2 separate regions of the Homo sapiens genome follow, and region 1 is linked to region 2. A link means that fine-mapping ties the variant in region 2 to the expression of a gene that starts in the linked region. Tissue or cell type: whole blood. Region 2 holds a variant in brackets; the other region holds the start of a gene. All regions are shown on one strand. Distances are from middle to middle.

Evidence for each region.
Region 1: TDP1 starts here. The variant in region 2 is fine-mapped to the expression of TDP1 in whole blood (TOPMed, PIP above 0.99).

What each region holds. Positions count from the first base shown.
Region 1 is chr14:89,954,513-89,957,421 of GRCh38, forward strand. It overlaps TDP1 (tyrosyl-DNA phosphodiesterase 1), which reads left to right and starts at 1,415. Exons shown (of 17, transcript NM_018319.4): 1 at 1,415-1,458; 2 at 2,066-2,288. EFCAB11 (EF-hand calcium binding domain 11) reads right to left here and starts at 218. Exons shown (of 6, transcript NM_145231.4): 1 at 74-218. The coding sequence starts at 148. RefSeq lists an enhancer at 1-447 and a silencer at 1,513-1,742.
Region 2 is chr14:89,933,737-89,936,645 of GRCh38, forward strand. All of the region lies in intron 3 of EFCAB11 (EF-hand calcium binding domain 11), which reads right to left. Among named protein-coding and RNA genes, the nearest start is that of EFCAB11, 20 kb to the right of the region's middle. The variant C/T (reference allele first, on the strand shown) is at 1,808.

The DNA.
Region 1 (2,909 bases), 21 kb after region 2:
CAGACACGGGAGAGGAAGCGAGAGGCCCAGGCCAAGCTGAAGTCCGAGGCTCAGTCGCCCTCCGGAAACCTACTTCCACCCACTTCCTGTGTTCCGAGGGACTGGCTTCCCACGTCCGCGACCTGGCTCTGGCCTCGGAGAAGAACATCGCGACTACAACAACCGAGCCCCAGCAACCCAACCAGCTACCACCGCTTTCCCAGCCTGGCTGGCAGCCTACCGCGGCCACGCCCACCGCGGCTCAGGAAGCCGAACTTCACCGCGCAACTCCGACGTCTCCTCCCATTGGACAACCTGCCAGCCACTCGCGTTAATCCCGCAGGGCTATTGGCCAGAGTCTTTGTTTAATTACGTTTCCTTGGAGCCGCCCTGGCAGTGAGGCGCCCAGGCCTGCCCCCAGCACTTGGCTCCACCCCCTGACTGTCCCTTAACTCGTTGAGCGCGGCTGGAAATCCAAGCGCTTCTAGGTGCTGGTTCAATGCCTGGTTCATGATTTATTTCATTCTCTCCCTCCATCTTGCAATAGGTTACTTTTAATCATTTAGATCTATGACACTATGCTAAACGTTATAGGAGACAAAAAGACTGTGAACAAACAAGAAGAACCAAACGAAAAGAGCCAAGTCCAGGATTCTCGTTCAGATCAGCAAGTCATTGGGATCGAGCTCCTAGGGCAGCTACTACATCTGTTATGTCCTCAAGATAATCCCAGCACCTAGCACTGTGCCTGGCACAAAGTAGATCTTCAATGAAAGAACGAAACGAGCCGTTATATTTACACAGATGTATTTCACTCAGTCCTCTGGAAGAGATGCCTAGTGTGAAAGAGATTCCAAGAATAAATACCATAAACAGCACCGAGCCCAAATCCCACAGCAAACATCCTTATTAAAGGCAAGGAACGTGGGGCGAGTTCCTTTTCTCAGAAGATTTTACGAGAACGCAACTGTTGCGAAGAAGGAACAGACATTCGAGGTTCTGAGTCCAATGGGAACTCATTTAACTTTTTATTTTGCAGCAGATTTCAAAGTCTGCACCCAGCCCCTCCCAGGACACAGGTCTCCTTGCAGCTGCCTTTAACCTAAGCGTATCCTCTCTCCACTTTAAACCAAACGCCGCTGCATGGAGCCCTGGGAGCCTGAGCCATGAGAATCCTGTAAAGAGGGTGAGTCTTGCTATTAGTTAACTAGAGCGAAGTTAGGGGACGCCTTTCTGGTTCTCCTCTCGTTTTAAGAAGTCTCCAGGAAGTAAGCCAAGAGCTAGGAGAGACCAGGTTTCCCCAGCCCCGTCCTGGGTAAACACCCGGCGGGCTTTAGGACCCAGCGGTGGGCTCTCCGGAAGGGGAAGGGGCCGGGCCTCGAGGCACAAGCCGCTGCCGCCAGGGTTTGAACTGCGCGCATGCGCGGCGGCCGCCGAAGGGGCGGGATCCGAGGCAAGCGTTGGTTCTGTGCGCCTCAGGTACGTGTTGGGCGGCAGTGGGCGCGGACTCGGTGCGGTCTCTCGCGGGCTGCGGTCGGGCCCGGGATCCTGCTCCTGGCCGAGTCGCGGTGCGCGGGCTGCTGGGGTCCGGCAGGGCTGGAGGCGGACCGCGAGGAAGCGGCGCGGCCGGGAAGATGGGGCAGGGTCGCCTCGGCCCCGGGGCCTCGGTTTCCTCCGATCACAGCGCCTCAGGGGGCGCGCACGGGCGCTGCGGAGACCTGTGTCCTGCCGGGGCGCGGCGCTAGGGGCCCCTGCTCGGGTTTTTATTCCCAGACCTAAGCTTACAGGTGCGTGGTCCCAGAAAGTGAGTAGGAAAGCGCCCACCACGTGCCAGGCGCTTAAGCTTTCTGTGCTCGGTTTCCCAGTATAGGAGGACGGTCACGGTACGTAGTATAGAGTTGTCCTGAGGGTGAAGCGAGTTTACACTTGGTGAGGCGCTTCGAATCGTGCCTGGCCGGCCCCAAATGAGCACGCAGTAAGGTTAGCAGCTGCTGCCGTCACTTCCTCACGTTCTGAATCTGCTCCGTCCCCAACGCCTTCAGCAAGAGCCCTCTCACTTCCTTTGTCTTCAACCCATTCTCCGCAGAGTTGGAGCACACAGCTGTATTAAAAAGGCAAATCGAAGGCCGGGCGCGGTGACTCACGCCTGTCATCCTAGCACTTTGGGAGGCCGAGGCGGCTGAATCACTTGAGGTTAGGAGTTTGAGATCAGCCCGGGCAACATGGTGAAACCCCGTCTCTACAAAAATAGAAAAATTAGCCGAGCGTGATGGTGGATGCCTGTAATCCTAGCTCCTCGGGAGGCTAAGGTAGGAGAATTGCTTGAACCTGGGAGGCAGAGAGGTTGGAGTGAGCCGAGATTGCGCCATTGCGCTCCAGCCTGAGCGGCAGAGCGAGACTCTGTCTCAAAAAAATAAATGTAAATCGGACTCCCCTTCTTAAAGCCCTCAGTGGGGTCCCATTGATCATTGCATAAAATCCAATTTCTTTAACAAGTCTTCTCCCCTCACCCGCTTCGGACCACTGCCTGCCTTGCCTAAGTCCTTTCTTATGACCTCTTTCCCACCTCTGCCGGCTGGGTTCCCTCTACTTGGGAATGCTCTTCACCCCATCATTTAGACAGCAGGTTCCTTTTGGCCCTCTGGGTCTCATTTATATGTTACTTTTTAAGTATATTCCAAAGGTCACCCCTATTTTTCTGTCTCATACTTATAAAATGTAATGAATGTCTAACTCATCTTGGCTATTAAAATTTTTATGTGTGGGTCTGTCTCTTCTGCCCTGAAATTAGCTCTGCTAGGGTAGAAACTATATTGTTAACGCCTCATTCCCAGTTTTTGGTACATAATAGCTGCCCAGTAAGTTATTGAATGAATGAACTCCAGGGGGTAAGCATGATATCCATTTCACAGACTAAAAAACTGAGGCTC
Region 2 (2,909 bases):
TCATTACACAGGTTCAACTGCAAATGCACACCTCATTACAAACTGTGGCATGGGCAATGAGGGGAAAGACAGGAGGTTGTGAAAAAGATTCACAGGAATCCTCATGTCAAGTAGACTCTGGTGACAGAGAGAGCCCTTCAAGGAGGAGATATTTAAGCCAAGACCTAAACCATGAGACAATACCAACTGCCTAATGTTGGGAAGAAGAGCATTGCTGGCAGTAGGAACAGCCTGTGCCGAGGCTGTTGTGTGGCAAGGTGGGAAAATGAAAAAAGGCTGCTGTGGCTGGAACAAAGTGAGCCAGAGAGAAGTGATACAAGATGAGGTTGGGGAGGGCAGCAGGGGCCAAAACTCACAGGCTCTTGTGGGCCACAGTAAATAATTTGGGTTTTATTTAAGTGGCAATAGGAAGTCAACAGAAGGTTTGAATTGGGAAGTTACATGATCTTTCTGGCTATTATCCTGATAAAAGGACGGAGGTGGGGGAGCAAAAATGTAAAAAGAGAGACCAGTTAGGAGCCTACTGGCAAGAGATGTGGTTGCCAGGTTGCTGGCAGTGGGGATGAGAGGAGTGGAAGGTTTCCAGATATATTTTAGAATCTAAATGACATAGCTTGATGAAGAACTAGATGTGGCAGGTGAGAAAGAAAGAGATGTCAAGAATATCCCGTAGATTCTGGCTTGAAGAGCTACTTAAAGAGAGGAGAAAGTCTGGGGGAAGAGCAAAATTGGGGCGAGATGAAGAGTTGCCATTCAGCTGTGTGAAGTGTTCAGTGCTCTGGAGACAACCAAGAGGAGAAGTTCAGGAGGTGGCCGGCTGTCTTCTAGGCAACAGGGCATATCTCCCTCACCTACCAGAGTGCCTGGCAGGTGCTCAATCATACGTACTGTAGCAAATTAGCATATGTAGCATTTTTTTCCATAGTTGTGGGGAATACATATTGATGCAGCTCCATTCTTATCTAATTACCCTTGTGACAGAGAACATAATGACAAATTGTTAGCTGAGGTTAAAATTGAAGTCTAGCTATGCCATGTGCCCATAAGATCATATCCATAACTTTAGCTTCATGAACACCAAAATCTAGTCAATTAAGTAGCATCTAGAGTAGCCGAAATTCTTGAATAATGTATTCACTGATAATGGCATGTCCTAGGAGACCCTTCAGAAACGTACCCCAGTCCACCTCTCAAGGCTTCCTAGTCAACTTCCTGGTGCTTCCCCAAGCCAAGAGGCCCTTTCGCACTCCACACCTTTGCATGTATAGAACACACTGCCTGGAATAATGCACTTTCTCCTTTTTTCTCCTAGTGAATATTTGTATCTCCTTCCAGATGCAACCCAGGCATCATCTCCTGTTTGAATATGTCTCTGATTTCTCTCAGCTAAGTCCTTTTTCTGTGACCCGACGGCCCTTTGTTCATCATGCAATCATAGAAGTGATTAGGATCTACGGTAATTATTTGGCCACATGTCTGCCTGAGACATGCTGAGGGAAAGCAGTGTATAGTGTTCTCAAAATTTTATCCCATGTTTAGCATGATGCCTAGCAGACAGTAGGCATTCATTACATGTTTGCTGAGTAAGTAACATTCAATGAATAATAACAAACAAGATGTTATTTCTAGTTTTTAGCAAAAAGCATTAAAATGCATGTGGGTTTTTTTTTTTTTTTTTTCCTAGAGACAGGGTCTTGCTCTCTTGCCCAGGCTGGAGTGCAAAGGCTAGTCACAGGCATGGCCACAGCGCACTGCAGCCTCAAAATCCTAGCCTCAAGTTATCCCCCACCTCAGTCTCCCCAGTAGC[C/T]GGAACTAAAGGCATATGCCACCATGCCAGGCTTAAAATGTGTGTTTTAGAGCAGGTATAATGGCTCATGCCTATAATCCTAACACTTTGGGAGGCCAAGGTGGGCAGAGAGGTTGAGGTCAGGAGTTCCAGACCAGCATGGCCAACATGGCAAAATCTGTCTCTACTAAAAATACAAAAATTAGCCAGGTGCGGTAGCTCACGCCTGTAATCCCAGCAATTTGGGAGGCTGAGGCAGGCAGATCACCTGAGGTCAGGAGTTTGAGATCAGCCTGGCCAACAAGGCAAAACCTATCTCCACTAAAAATACAAAAATTAGCCAGGTGTGGCGGCATGCACCTGTAATCCCAGCTAGTCAGGAGGCTGAGGCACAAGAATCACCTGAACCCAGGAGGTGGAGGTTGCGGTGAGCCGAGATCGTGCCACTGCACTCCAGCCTGGGTGACAGAGTAAGACTCTGTCTCAAAAAAAGAAAAAAAAAAACCCATGTTTTAAATGATCTTATAACTCTGTAAATGAATGCCAAAAAGTAGGTCTCTTTCTATTCACATAGCCAGCAAAATAAACTGTCACTTCAGAAACTCCAATTTCTTAAAACATATGATATAGTAAAAACCAAACAAAATTCAGAGAGAACTACATCGATAATATTTGCTCTTATCATTGCATTTGACTTAGAGAAGTGATAAAGGGAAAAAAGCACAATTCCTGGTTCATCGTGTAATTCACAAGGAAAAAAAAGGACCTGAGTGGTGATATCTTTTAAATTACATATTCAGATAACTCATGAGTATTTGGAGCTGTGAAGTATTCAGGTCTTTATTTTACAATATTGTAGGATAAAAACAAACAGTCTTTAGCTTTTACTAGGAGAAAATGTATGTGGATTTAAACTGTATGCCTATTACCACTTAAAAGGAAAACCCATCCAATAACAAAAATTACTCCGTATGTGTAATCAATTTCTTTCACACTATTTTCCCACACAATCATATGCTTTTATTTCTTAAAGTCCATACTCTAGGGGTTAAACTCATCAAGCATATATTGTGTGAACATATCCCCTCCCTTCTATGCCTTTAATTGTCTTAATCTTCTAACG